Homo sapiens: one gene and its partners. The protein of the gene in region 2 purifies or fractionates together with the protein of the main gene of each other region. This does not show direct contact. Each region holds a gene or a part of one and is shown on either strand. Other genes may lie near its edges.

What was found. The genes of interacting proteins can lie anywhere in the genome.
Region 1: the proteins of RPS6KA5 (region 2) and C1orf116 fractionate together in Homo sapiens (co-fractionation; one large-scale study listed by BioGRID). This does not show direct contact.
Region 3: the proteins of RPS6KA5 (region 2) and GLUD1 purify together in Homo sapiens (affinity purification with mass spectrometry; one large-scale study listed by BioGRID and IntAct). This does not show direct contact.
Region 4: the proteins of RPS6KA5 (region 2) and MOV10 purify together in Homo sapiens (affinity purification with mass spectrometry; one large-scale study listed by BioGRID and IntAct). This does not show direct contact.

What each region holds. Positions count from the first base shown.
Region 1 is NC_000001.11:207,029,957-207,033,921, reverse strand, and holds the start of C1orf116 (specifically androgen-regulated gene protein), read left to right. Parts: upstream 1-1,165; 5' UTR 1,166-1,343; intron 1,344-3,965. UniProt on the Homo sapiens protein: Putative androgen-specific receptor.
Region 2 is NC_000014.9:91,050,642-91,054,141, forward strand, and holds part of RPS6KA5 (ribosomal protein S6 kinase alpha-5), read right to left. Parts: intron 1,822-3,500; exon of another isoform or gene 1,682-1,821; intron 1-1,681. UniProt on the Homo sapiens protein: Serine/threonine-protein kinase that is required for the mitogen or stress-induced phosphorylation of the transcription factors CREB1 and ATF1 and for the regulation of the transcription factors RELA, STAT3 and ETV1/ER81, and that contributes to gene activation by histone phosphorylation and functions in the regulation of inflammatory genes.
Region 3 is NC_000010.11:87,056,844-87,060,343, reverse strand, and holds part of GLUD1 (glutamate dehydrogenase 1, mitochondrial isoform a precursor), read left to right. Parts: intron 1-102; coding exon 103-183; intron 184-1,070; coding exon 1,071-1,194; intron 1,195-2,561; coding exon 2,562-2,653; intron 2,654-3,500. UniProt on the Homo sapiens protein: Mitochondrial glutamate dehydrogenase that catalyzes the conversion of L-glutamate into alpha-ketoglutarate. Plays a key role in glutamine anaplerosis by producing alpha-ketoglutarate, an important intermediate in the tricarboxylic acid cycle.
Region 4 is NC_000001.11:112,677,659-112,681,158, reverse strand, and holds part of MOV10 (helicase MOV-10), read right to left. Parts: intron 1-3,500.

The DNA.
Region 1 (3,965 bases), on a different chromosome or scaffold from region 2:
AGCTACATGGCCTTGAAAAAGATTTTTAACCTCCCTGTAAAATTTAGATATTAACAAATGCCTACTTTTTTAAGTTAAAGACTAAATTAAAAGATACATGAAAATGCTCAGCACAATACCTAGCAAATAGCAAGAGCTTAATACATTTTGGCAATTATTGTGTACATTGATTTTAAATTTTCTCCCTGACCTTTTAATGCTAGTAAGTGGAATACCTCAAATCCTGATACCTATCAAGGATAATCTACCTGTAGGAAAAACCAGCTTCCAGGCAAAAATCATATCTGTTAAGAGTGGTCTCTGTACCTGGTGGGAAATTTCTTCCCAAAAATAGTAGATTCTTCTACCTACTCTCTTCTCCCTACGAATGCCAAGTATCAGTCCATGAAAGGAGACAAGAGTTGCTAAACTGGTTGGTAGTTTGTTTTGTTTTTATTTCATAATATGTATTGCCACCTTCCATGAACAGCCAAAAGAGAGCAGAGGACCAAATGACAGAGTGCATGCTCTCTCCTTTCAAGCTGTCCAGTCACTCTTTCATCAGGACACGGACCTCTTAGGGGATGAATGGTTTTATTTCCCCCAGAAATAAATTAGGCCAAGGAGATTGTTGGCAAGCACTGGGGCGAGACTGGCCCAACTACAGCATCCCTAGCCTGGGGACACCTTCTTCAGTGGACATGAATGGAATTGCTAGGCTTATGAGCTAGGATTAGGCTTGGGGAAGAAAGTGACTTTCAACATCTAGAAAAGCTAGCAGCAAAACTGAACACAAATGAGTTTAGCCTAGAGAATTCAGGGGAAAACTAAGCTCCAAGCGGAAGAAGGTAGTTCTAGATGAAAAACCTGTTTCACATAGACCTATGGAAAAGCACACTGCCCAGAGGACTGTCTGCGTTCCTTTATATCAACATTAAATATATATACTATCTCTGCCTACTCCCTCCCTGCCACCTGTCCTTCCAGTCTCAGCCCAAACCGGCTCCTCCTCCTTCCAGCCCTCCTTTTTTAAAGAGCTCTTTATTAGCTCTAAACAGGAAAGGGGAGGGTAGGAGATGATTGGCTAAGAGGGAACAGCACCACCCTGCTCATTCCCCTCCCATTCCCTCCCTGAGGAAACAGCTGGAATGAGAGGTAGGGAGGGGAGGCTAGGATTGGCTGAGTCAGTGGCAGGGTGGGGGCCAGGCAGCACAGATGAAGCATTTACCTATCTAGGTAAGTCAGGAGGAGCTCAAAAGGAGAAGAAAACAGTAGGAGGCAGGGGAAGCAGCCTCTGTCTCCATCTCTGCCCTTTGAAACAAAAGGGTATTTCTTTTCTCTCTTCAGCCCCCAACCCAGTGGAGGTGAGTTAATCACTAACCAACTATTGCTTATCCTATAGCAATAGGAAGGGGTTTCATGGGAAATCAGAGCTACAGGGGAGGGGAGGTGTCCCTCTATACCCCAGCTAGGGAGATTTCCTCTCTGTTCCTCAATTCTCTGAGTCCATTCTGGGATCAGATCAGGTTGGTAGCAACTTGAGATTGTAGTGTTTTTGTGGAGACTGGGGCTGGGAGGCACCTTCTTTTTCATTTATCCCTTTAGGTTGGATAGGCATATTGTGCAAACAACAAGAAAAAGAAAATAGATTTGTTTTGGAAATTTCCATCTCTGAACAATTGAAATTGAGTTGTGATTTTAGAAAAGAACAGTTGAAATAGAGGGAGTCAAAATGGGGGAGAGTATCTTGGTTTTCCATAGCGACTGTAACAGGAAATTCTCCCGTGGCTTTACCAACTCGGTGTCGATCTTTATTTAAATAATGGGTGCAATGTGTGTGTGTGTTTGATCATGCTCATGTGATAATGGAGCTCTCTGTGTACAGGTGTGTTAGGCATGAGCTGTACTAGGTTGTTTGTAAAGGGATATGAGGTTGGGGCACATGGAGAAAACTTCAGCTACCAGCTCATCTTTGGAAAACCCATGGATAATCTAGCTGCAAAGTCAAGTTTATTTGGATTCTACTCAATTAACTTTCTGACTCAGCCTGTTAATAGACACAGAGACTGGCAAACAGAAAGCTACCTGGCTGTGCCGAGCCTCACCCACATGAATATTTCGTGGCTGCATGTCAAGTCTAGTTAGAGTTCCAAGTGGGGCTCAAGCCAAGGTAGTGTGGCAGAGTCCACAGACAGAGAAGCAGACCAGGGTGGTGGCTTTGTTTGTTTTCCTGCAGGTGTCCCAGTTGGCAGTTTGTGTGGCAGATTTACCTGCAGAAGGAAGGCAGATGTAGGAGTCGAGTCAGAGTAGCAAGTTGCCTCTCCATTATCCATCTTGGGGGGTTTAACCCTTTGGTCCCTAACTTTGACTCTTTTCCTCCTGCTGCAGAGAAGAGGGAAGTGGGAAGCCCTCAGTGCCAGGCTCAAGGGCCTGGCACACGCAGCCCTGAGTGAATATATGGGTTTTCCAGTCCTGGCAACTGGAGATTTAGGCTTGAGCTCACCTCACACCACAGAGCCAACACCCCACACTCACAGACTGAGGGCTGCCCTAGATGGTGAATTTAGGAATAAAGACCACTGGCAGTGTCTAACAAAGCTCTGCTATGCAGAGGGTATTTCTACCTGCTCCTTCCCTCAAACACACTGGTGAAAGGGAAGATGATAATGTTGCCTAAACACACACAGAAACTTGCCCATGTGTTCATGGAGACAGATATGCAAACTGTGCAAGTTTTAGTCATTCTGCTATTTTTCTTAGGATATTTTCCAGCCCAAGGCACATTTCTGGGTAGTCAACAAGAAGCAAAGACACCTGGATTGAAAGACAGGAAACCTCTTTGACTAGTAGGCAGAGAGGCAAAGCTCTTGGAGGACATGTGGGGGGTTCGTGGGAGGAGGATGAGAGGGACCTGGGTCTGATTAGAAGGTACAGACAAGCCAACCTGGAATGGAGCTGGAGCCCTCTCCCCACCCCACCATCTCCAGATGCCAGAACTTGAACTGTTCTTTATTTCCTCTCCTCCAAGGCTTGGCAGTATTTAGTATTTTAGTCAGTGGTGTAGTTAATATTTAATGTGTCTTTGGATGGGTGGCCCTGACTATAGGTGCTGCATATTTCTTAACCCATTCCCTCCTCCCGTTAAGTTCCCAAAGAGGTCAAGGGTTAAGATACCAAACTCTCACCTTGAGTGTTTTGTTTGTTTCTCAGTCTTCTTATCAGGGTTTCGATGGCTGCCCTGAAAGAGCCCCAAGGTTCAAGGTTGTGAAGTCGGTGAAAGGAAATGCAGCTTTCACCATTAAGATTCTTTAGGTCAGAAAACTAGGTATGGAGATGAGGTGACAGCGCCTCGCTCAGCTTTGGTTTCAGGTTCAGATTCCTCTGTGCAGGGATTATGTAATCCCTAAAGACATGATCTTCCTTGGCAGTTGGTGTCATTTCTTTACTGTAGAAATATCTGCTGTTGGGGCAATACACTGGTCTGGAAGTATAAAGCTGAAGCAGATGATTTGCAGGGTTTAAGGTATGAAGTAGAAGGAGAAGGGGGTTTTAAGGCTTTTAGTATTTTAGTCAGGGGTGGCTAGTAACCATTCTCGGGGGCATGCCCCTCTTGCATCCAGATAGTCCCTGAAATGCCCTGTGGAGGGCTGCCCTGTATATGCATGTATAGGTCATTCCCTGTTTCCCTTAGGAAGGGCTAGTGGTAAGAGCCATAACTTTCTCACCCGTAAAATGAAGAAAACGTCACATCCTGCCTATGTTTCCAGTTTATGCTGAAGATCGAATTAGCATATCTGAGAGTACTTTGCAAGCTATGGCATGCTGTGTTCTTGTGAAGCAGTGCTTTTCCTACCACTTTTATCTCTTCCAGCTACTTGAAGACATCCTAGGTTCTGAAACAAAAGTGTGATAAGCTTCCCTGGTAGGAAAGAGAGACTAGAAAACCTCTGTAAAGTCTAAAGCATACTTAGAAGCACAAGGGTAGT
Region 2 (3,500 bases):
TGGTCTCAAACTCCCGACCCCAGGTGATACACCCGCCTCAGCCTCCCAAAGTGCTGGGATTACAGGCGTGAGCCACCGCGCCCAGCCGGCTTGCTTTTGTAAGCTATGTTTGTTTAAAAAAATAAAAATAAAAAAAAAGCAAGTATCTTATTGGAACTAATAGTTATGTTTCTTAAAAGCTAATTACAAATCAAATCATTATTAATGGAACCACATTCAAAAAGCAGCAGGGAACTGTTGTTTTTCAACAGATCCAACATGAATCCTTTGGTAAAACAGGATGATCTTTTAAAGTAAATCATAGGGTCAGGTGTGGTGGCTCATGTCTGTAATTCCAGCCATTTGGGAGGTCGAGGCAGGTGGAGCACGTGAGGTCAGGAGTTCCAGACCAGCCTGGCCAACATAGCGAAACCCCACCTCTACCAAAAAATACAAAAATAAGCTAAGCGTGGCGGTGTGTGGTGGCACACACTTGTAGTCCCAGCTACTTGGGAGGCTGAGGTGGGAGGATCACTTGAACCCAGGAGGCAGTGGTTGCAGTGAGCTGAGATCACGCCATTGCACTCCAGCCTGAGCGACAGAGTGGGACCCTGTCTAAATAAAAATAAATAAATAAATAAATAAATAAATAAATAAATAAATAAAGTAAATCACTAGCCGGGAATGGTGGCTCATACCTGTAATCTCCACACTTTGGGAGGCAGAGATGGGAAGACTGCTTGAGCCCAGGAGTTCAAGACCAGCCTGGGCAACATAGTGAGATTCTGTCTCAATAAAATGAAATTTTAAAATACAACAACAATAAAGTAAATCACCACTCTGGACTTTTTATCATGAAACATCCTTTTATTTTTTTATTTTTTTGAGACAGAGTTTTGCTGTTGTTGCCCAGGCTGGAATGCAATGGTGCGATCGCAGCTCACTGCAACCTCCGCCTCCCAGGTTCAAGCAATTCTCCTGCCTCAGCTTCCAAGTAGCTGGGATTACAGGTGCCCGCCACCGTGCCCAGCTAAGTTTTTGTATTTTTACTAGAGATGGGGTTTCACCATGTTGGCCAGGCTGGTCTCGAACTCCTGACCTCAGGTGATCCACCTGCCTCGGCCTCCCAAAGTGCTGGGATTACAGGCATGAGCCACCATGTCTGGCCGAAAGATTTAAAAAAAAAAGAAAAAGCTCACCCAAACCAACTAGGAATAGAAGAGAACTTTGTCAACCTGAGAAAGAACATCTATGAAAAACTCACAGCTAACTTCATACTCAGTGGTAGAAGACTAAAGCCTTCCCCCTAGGATCGGGAAAAGACAAGGAACTAACTTTGTCTATACCAGAATTTCCATGGAAATGCCACAGAAGAGCTTTAATGCTCGTAAATACTTTGATTATAACTCAGTCCATCACCTTTACTTTATGAATCAAAAAACTTGGGCTCAGAAAGGCAAAATGACTTATCCCAGGTCATATAGCAAATTAGGGGCTGACTTAGAACTACAGTCCACTCCCTACCTCTGTTAAATCTTTACTTAAGGCCAGATGCAGTGGCTCATGCCTGTAATCCCAGCACTTTGGGAGGCCCAGGCAGATGGATCATCTGAGGTAAGGAGTTCAAGACCAGCCTGGCCAACATGGCAAAACCCCATCTCTACTAAAAAAAAAAAAAAAAAAAAAAAAAAAAAAAAATTACCTGGGTATGGTAGTGGGTGCCTGTAATCCCAGCCACTTGGGAGGCTGAGGCAGGAGAATCACTTGAACCCAGGAGGCGGAGGTTATAGTGAGCCGAGATCAGCACCACACTCCAGCCTGGGCAACAGAGTAGACTCGTCTCTTAAAAAAAAAAAAAAAAAAACAGATTTACTTAAGAGATTGTAAATATGGATACCACTAATCAAATAGATAAGATCTTTAGGCAAGCGCGGTGGCTCAAGCCTGTAATCCCAGTACTTTGGGAGGCCAAGGCGGATGGATCATGAGGTCAGGAGATCGAGACCGTCCTGGCTAACACGATGAAACCCCGTCTCTACTAAAAGTACAAAAAAAAAAAAAAGTTAGCTGGGCGTGGTGGCAGGTGCCTGTAGTCCCAGCTACTTGGGAGGCTGAGGCAGGAGAAATGGCGTGAACCCAGGAGGCAGAGCTGGCAGTGAGCAGAGTTCGCGTCACTGTACTCCAGCCTGGGAACAGAGCGAGACTCCATCTCCAAAAAAAAAAAAAAAAAAAAAGCTCTTTAGTTGGTGACAGAACTCAATCAAGAATATTTTGGGGAGACTAGACAGAGGTATCACCAAAAAAGAACACTACAAAGATTTCTTATGGATATAGATACAAATCCTTAATAAAATACAAGCAAACTGAATCCAGCAACAAAGAAAAAGGATTATATACCATGACAAACAAGATTTATCCCAGGAATACAAGGTTGGCTTAACATTCAAAAGTTAATTAATGTAATACACCATATGAACAGAACAAAAAAAATGGTCATCTTAATAGATGCAGAAAAAAGCATCTGACAAAATCCAGCACTCTTTCATGATTTAAAAAAACACCCAAACTAGGAGGAGAAGTGAAATTCTTCAATTTGATAAAATACATCTATGAAAAACCCATAGCTAACCCCATACTCAGTGGTAGAAGACTAAAGCTTTCACCCTAGGATCAGGAATAAGACAAGGATGTCTGCTCTTGCAAGTTCTATTGAACCATAGTGAAGGTTCTGGCCAAGGCAATTAAGCAGGAAATTGAAACAAAAGATATCTGGATTGGAAAGAAAGAAGTAAAATTATCTCTATCCATGGCTAACACAATCTTATAAATAGAAAATCCTAAGGTGTCCACTAAACTATTAGAACCAATAAACTAGTTCACCAAGGTTGCAGGACACAAGGTAAAAACTGTACCTCTATACTCTTGGAATGAACAATCCAAAAATAAAAGTAAGAAACTAGTTCCTTTTACTATAGCATCAAAAAATAAATAAATAATAAAATACTTAGAAATAAATTTAACAAAAGTGCAAATTTATACTCCTTAAACGGAAAAACGTTGTTGAAAGTAATTGAAGACAACCTAAATAAATGGAAAGACATCTCATGTTCATAGATCAGACGACTTAACATTGCTAAGATGGCAACACTGCCAAAGTTTAACTAAAAATTCAATGAGATCCCTATCAGAATGCCACTGAGTTGGCTTCTTTGCAGACACTAACAAGCTGATCCTAGAATCCATATGGAAATACAAGGAATCCAGAATAACCAAAACAATGTTGAAGAATAAGACTCACACTTCTCAATTTCAAAACTTACTAAAAAACTGTAGTAGTCAAGACAGCATGGTACTGCTATAAGGAGAGACATATAGATCACTGGAAGAGAACTGAGAGTATAAAATAAATAAACCCATACATCTATAGTCAACTGATTTTCAATAAGGGTGCCAAGACATTAAAATGGAGAAAAAAATAGTCTTTTCAGCTAATGGTGCTGGAACAATTGGATATTTACATG
Region 3 (3,500 bases), on a different chromosome or scaffold from region 2:
TCTCCCCACAGCCCCTTGTTCATATATGCACATCTCTTGCCCTCAGTGGAGGGGATTTGACGGTGGTGTTCGCATTTCTCTATGTTCCTGACTCTCTTGCAGATCATTGCTGAAGGTGCCAATGGGCCAACAACTCCAGAAGCTGACAAGATCTTCCTGGAGAGAAACATTATGGTTATTCCAGTAAGTCATCTATATTTATTAGGCTTTATATGTACTTAGAATCATAATAGTCTTTTGCAAGGAATTTGGAGGAAGAGAGGAATTATTAGTCTCCAAGCTCTAGTGAATTCATCTTTTTCACTTTTGAGAAAATATAGTAGAAGCATGGTTAATTCTAAGCCTGTTAATTTTCACTTTGATCGAAACATTTATTCCAATTTCAGGCTCTTTACTGAATGTCTTTAGCCTTCTAAGAGTCTGGTTATATAAATGTGTACTGTGTTAGAAACACTATTCTAACTAAAGCTCTTAAGATTTTCTATATGATTCCTAACCTTATGCATTTCAAGTGCCCTTTCCAGCTTTACTCAGAAAACTAATATGAGGAACACGTGCTCAGGTTTTTTAGCAAGTAAAAATGAGTCTACACCAAAAAGTTACTAGAAATTAATGTGGGCTTGGAATATATTTTAAAGAACCCCCTTTGCTGAAAGCACTTAAGACATTTAATGTAACTGAAATGGGCTACCCTTAGGTAATAGGAGAAAGAATCCTGTCTTCTGAGAGGCCCTGTGGACAGTCCAGTCCAACTGGTTGGTGGGCAAGCCATTTAGTCTGAGAACTAACTTCTGGTAGAGAAGAGGCTCCAACCAAAGATTATTAACTTTCCTTGATTAATAAGCCAAAAAATGATTTTTTTTTTTTCCTAAATAGAAAAAGCCTTAGATGGAATTGGGTGGGATGGGAAGGAGTGTTAATTAAGTGTGAAATTCCTGATACTGGCTAAAATATATTTGCGATATTTAAAGTCCAGTCTACCTTGGTATTGAAATTAAGGTCTTAGGTTCATTTTCAGCTTTTACGAAAACCATCATCTTCTAATTTCTTTGTCTTATTTTTGTGCATAGGATCTCTACTTGAATGCTGGAGGAGTGACAGTATCTTACTTTGAGTGGCTGAAGAATCTAAATCATGTCAGCTATGGCCGTTTGACCTTCAAATATGAAAGGGATTCTAACTACCACTTGCTCAGTGAGTATCGATAATCTTGTTCGCCAAAACTCATCTTTTGAGCCAGCTGAAAGGCTGTAAAAAGGTCCACTTAAGAGAACTGATCCCTTTGGGAAAGAATTGAGTCTCAGAAAAGAAAATAATATTTTGTCTCATGAAACTTAGACCAAAAATGCACAATGTCTTTCTGGATATTAACTCTCCCATATATTATATCCAGAGTTTTATTCTGTGATGTAATATTCACAGAATATAATCTACATTTTTTTTTTCTTTTTTTGAGAGGGAGTCTCGCTCCGTCGCCGAGGCTGGAGTGCAGTGGCACGAACTCGGCTTACTGTAGCCTCCGCCTCCCAGGTTCAAGCAATTCTCCTGCCTCACCCTCCCAAGTAGCTGGGGCTACAGGCACTCACCGCCACGCCCGGCTAATTTTTGTATTTTTAATAGAGACGGGGTTTCACCATGTTGGCCAGGATAGCCTTGATCTCCTGACCTCATGATCCGCCTGCCTCAGCCTCCCAAAGTGCTGGGATTACAGGCGTGAGCCACTGTGCCCAGCCAATAATATTTTTTTAAGTGTGATTTTAAAACTCCACTGTCGATACTAATTTCTGTCTCTGGTTGCTCTTAGTAAAGGCCTATCTAGTGTCAAGAATTGTTTTTGAGACTCCTGATGAGAATACTTGTTTTTCTTTGACTAGAGTAAGCTCCACAGTTAAGAGTAGAATTTCTCATCTAGTTGAAATAAGACCAAGACCTCCTACTGAGCTTCTGTACTCAGCCCACTGTGAGAATCTGGGTGAAGTGTTCCATCTATTTCCTTTTCTTTTTCCCCCAGCGTTTTCTTTTTAATAGAGCCAAGGAAAAACCCTGGTAATGGGTGTTATGGAAACAGAGCAGTGACCTAAATTCACATTTATATAGGAAATTGGCAATGTGTTTTATTCCTTCCTGACTGAGTTTTAAATGATTAACCCTTTTATGTCATTAAAACTCTGTATAAGGCCAGGCGCAGTGGCTCACGCCTGTAATCCCAGCACTTTGGGAGGCCAAGGCAGATGAATCACGAGGTCAGGAGGTCGAGACCATCCTGGCTAACACGGTGAAACCCCGTCTCTACTAAAAATACAAAAAATTAGCTGGGCGTGGTGGCGCGCACCTGTAGTCCCAGCTACTCGCAAGGCTGAGGCAGGAGAATGGCGTGAACCCGGGAGGCAGAGTTTGCAGTGAGCTGAGATCACGCCTCTACACTCCAGCCTGGGTGACAGACCACGACTCTGTCTGTATAAGTTTTTGGGTTACAGTTATAGTTTGGGACTACTTTTGATTCTACTTTTTTTTTTTTTTTTCTGTTAGCAATATCTTGATCTCTTGTTATTTTTTTGTAGTGTCTGTTCAAGAGAGTTTAGAAAGAAAATTTGGAAAGCATGGTGGAACTATTCCCATTGTACCCACGGCAGAGTTCCAAGACAGGATATCGGTGAGTGTGGTGACCCCACAGTTGTACTTCACACATGCTCCCTGCTCTTTCCTTCAGACAGAGCTGGTTAGATGGATTTCATCTGCGGCATAGTCTTTGTAATTAGCTTGACAGTAAGTGCGTGACATGTGTGTTTTGTACCTTTCCTTTTCATTACATTCTAAAACTGGAGTAAGAATCCTACTGACTACTAACAAATATAAAATAAATAAATTTGGTATTTTTCACGCACGTGTTTTAACAGTGAAGGATTATTATGTATTTTAATTATTTTAAGCTTCAGAGAAATAGGAAGAATTGAAAAGCAAGCATTAGATTGAACTATATGGGAGTCCAAGAGTTTGAGACCAACCTGGGGAACATAGTGAGTCCCCATCTCTACAAAAATAAAGAAAGAAACAAGAGGCCAGGCATGGTGGCACACGCCTGTAATCCCAGCACTTTGGGAGGTCAAGGCGGGTGGATCACGAAGTCAAGTCATCGACACCATCCTGGCCAACATGGTGACCCCGTCTCTACTAAAAATACAAAAATTAGCCAGGCGTGGTGCTACACGCCTATAGTCCCAGCTACTTGGGAGGCTAAGGCAGGAGAATCACTTGAACCCGGGAGGTGGAGGTTGCAGTTAGCCGAGATTGCACCACTGCACTCTAGCCTGAGCAACAGAGAGATACTCCGTTCCCGCCGCCGCCACCCCCCTCCCCCCGCCAAAAAAAAGAAAGGAGGGATGGAGGGAGGGAAACTTCTTTACCAGTAAATGATGGAAGACAGGAAAAACAAAAGTCCATAACACATAAGCCTGGGGGAAAAATTTAACCTCATTGTTAAAGAAATACAAATTGAAAAA
Region 4 (3,500 bases), on a different chromosome or scaffold from region 2:
ATATCAAGAGGTACCTGAGTACAGGGCGGAATGTGGAAATGGAGGTTGGATGCCCATAAGGGGAGGGGTCCACAATAAAAATGATATGTGATAATGATCCCACGTGTGTAAACTTATGTAGGTGTGATATAAGCATGCCTGCAAAAAGAGATAAATGAACCGGGTGCAGTAGCTCACGCCTGTAATCCCAGCACTTTGGGAGGTCAAGGCAGGTGATCACCTGAGGTTAGGAATTCAAGACCAGCCTGACCAATATGGTGAAACCTCGTCTCTACTAAAAATACAAAAATTAGCCAGGCATGGTGGTTCACGCCTGTAATCCCACCTACGTGGGAGGCTGAGGCAGGAGAATTGCTTGAACCCGAGAGGTGGAGGTTGCAGTGTGCTGAGATCGTGCCACTGCACTCCAGCCTAAGTGACAGAGAGAGATTTAAAAAAAAAAAAAAAAAAAGAGATAAATGAAAAGGTGATCACCAAAAGTTTTTTTTTTTTTTTTTTTTTTTGAGACGGAGTCTCACTCTGTCGCCCAGGCTGGAGTGCAGTGGTACAATCTCGGCTCACTGCAAGCTCCGCCTCCCGGGTTCAGGCCATTCTCCTGCCTCAGCCTCCTGAGTAGCTGGGACTACAGGCGCCCGCCACCACGCCCAGCTAATTTTTTGTATTTTTAGTAGAGATGGGGTTTCACCGTGTTAGCCAGGATGGTCTCGATCTCCTGACCTCGTGATCCGCCCACCTCTGCCTCCCAAAGTGCTGGGATTACAGGCGTGAGCCACCGCGCCCGGCCCAAAAGTATTTTTAAAACATTTAAACAAGTATCTAACATAAAACATTAAAGCCCTTAATTCCCTTGCTTCCAACTACTTGCTTGATTAGGAGCAATTAATTAAACCCACTATTTGATGTATGTTTTTCCTGATTTTTTTCTATGCATATAAAACACAATAATGAGATGATACATGCTACACATACTATTCTGCAGCAGGCGTCTTCCCACCATGGATCTTCTCCCATAACAATGCTTTACAGAACCACCATGACCTTTTGAATGGCTACAAAAGATAGCATGTATGAATGCATCATGGTGTGTTTTTTTCTCTAGTGATAGACAAGCTGCCTGAAATTTCTGGCTACTCCTAATGTTACAATAACTATCCTTGCACACAAACCCTTGTACTTGTAGGCAAGTCTAATGGGATAAATTCCTTAAAGTACAACACCTGGGTCAAAGAGAATGAACCTTTACAACTTTGATAAGTTCTGCCAAATTGTCCTTTAAACAGGTTGTACAAATTTATGTTCTCACTAACAAGAGTTAGAAAATGCCCTTTTCCCAAAGCTCTAACATCAGAAATTTTCAATGTTTTAAATTTTTGACAATTTGATTACAAAAACTCCTATCTTTTTAAACTGTGCATTTCTCTGATCACCAATATAGTCAAGGATCTTTCCTTCTTTTATTAGTCATTTATATTTCTTCTGTGAGCTGCCTGATCATACCCCTTGCTCAATTTTCTAGGTTCCAGTTAACTGTTCTCCCTACCTCTGGCTTCATACCCCTACACTAGGCCACCCCCTATATCTGCAGAATTGTCATCAAACACAAATCTGATCTTGTTCCCTCAATTTACAACTCCATAGTCCACAAAATTAAGTCTTTAATATGGCACCTTCCAAGATCCTCCATAGTAACAACGATAATGCAAATACAATAACATCAACAGAAAACGTTTCCTGAATGCATTATCTCATTCAATCCTCAAAACAACCCTTTGAGGTAGTAATTATTATCATCCCATTTTAGAGAAAAAGAAATTGAGGTACACATCCTCAACCACACTTGGCCTCTTGTCAATCCATCCTTATTTCAGCCATTCCCAACTACTTGTATCACTGTGCCCCTCTGCAGACTTCTGTGCTGTGGACATCCTTAGCCTGCACTGCCCTGCCTTAGGCCGCCCCTGCTGTTTGTTGGGTGAACAATGGCTAATCTTTTTAGACCCAGTTCAGGAAAGGCCAAAAGCTAGAGGAATGGTATTTCAGCACATATGATCAGATTTGGAAGTGATCTTAAAGAGACATCTAGTTTCACAATCTATAGACTATGGATTCCAACTCCCATTAGCGGGTCAAAGCCAGGGTTTTTATAAAATTGAAATAAAATAGAATAAAAAATATCAGAGAGCAGGGAGTGAAACTATGTATTGTTTCAAGGGCAGGCATTGTTTTGTGAAGGTTGTGTATGCCAGGTCCCAAAGTAAAATGTGTTTTTTACTGTGGGTAGAGGTCCAACCACCAAGCCACTCTCCACGCCAGAAGCCAGAATGATCTTTCTAAATCTGATTACGTCAGACTCTTACTTTGAAATTTTCTGTGTTTTCCTATTTCCATTAAGATTAAAGACAAAACAAAACACCTCACAATGCCTACCCAGGGCCCTGCTGGTCTCCCGTTCTTCTGAGGTCATCCCAAGCCTTTGAAGGTGCTGTTCCTGCCTGTACACTCTACCCTTGCCCTTTACACCTTCTAAGTCCCATTAATCCTTCAAGATTCTACTCAAATATCACTTTCCCCAAGAAACCTCTGCCTAAGTTTCTTGATCTAGTCTAGGTTGCTAGACTAGGACAGATCTCCAAATTATATACTCTCAATGCATACTGGACTTTTCTGTACAAGCACTCATCACAACCGTAATTAAATAATTATCTAACTGCTGCCTCCTTCCTTAGTTAGTTGGGTTCCTTTTGTATATTTCTAGCAACTCACTTTTGCTTTGCCATTCATAGGAAGCACTCAGCCAGTACTTGTAGAAGAATGAGTCTCCTGTCCAAAGCAAGAATCATCTTCTCTCAGAAACCTTTTCGTGACATCAGTCCTTACCCCATACAATGGACTCCTAATCATCATCGCACTAATGAGGGGTACCACTTAACAAAGCCAGTGTAATATGCTAGCCACACAAATGCTTTGCCTAGGACAACTCATTTTGGTCTCTCACAACCCCGAGAGAAAGGTACTATTTTACATACTCTTACAGTTGGGGAAATGGAAAATTTAGAGAGTTGTTCAAAGTTAAATGCAACCACTAAATGGCAGGGCTATCTAAACACCATTACTAGCACCTATACTACTGTATTGCATTTGTTTGTCTACACATATCTGCTGCTCTTTACTAGATTATATTCTTTGGAGGCAAGGACCAAGGCACAGGCACACAGTAGAGCCTCATTAACTATATTTGCTAAATGAATAAAGGTAGGTGGGAAAAGGCAAGAGTTCAGAGCAGAGCACTTTATAACATCATAAAATAACCTAGCTGGAGAGACCTATCCCCTCTCAGTGTAGGAATCTCCTAGAATTCCTAAAGAGTGTGACTTGCTATACCCCCCGCTATATGGCCCATTCTCTTGTTAGTTAACTCTAGTTGCTAGTTCACTTAGATTCTGCAAGCATTTATTGAGCATCTACTACATACAAAGCTCTATGCTGGGGACTGCAGACAG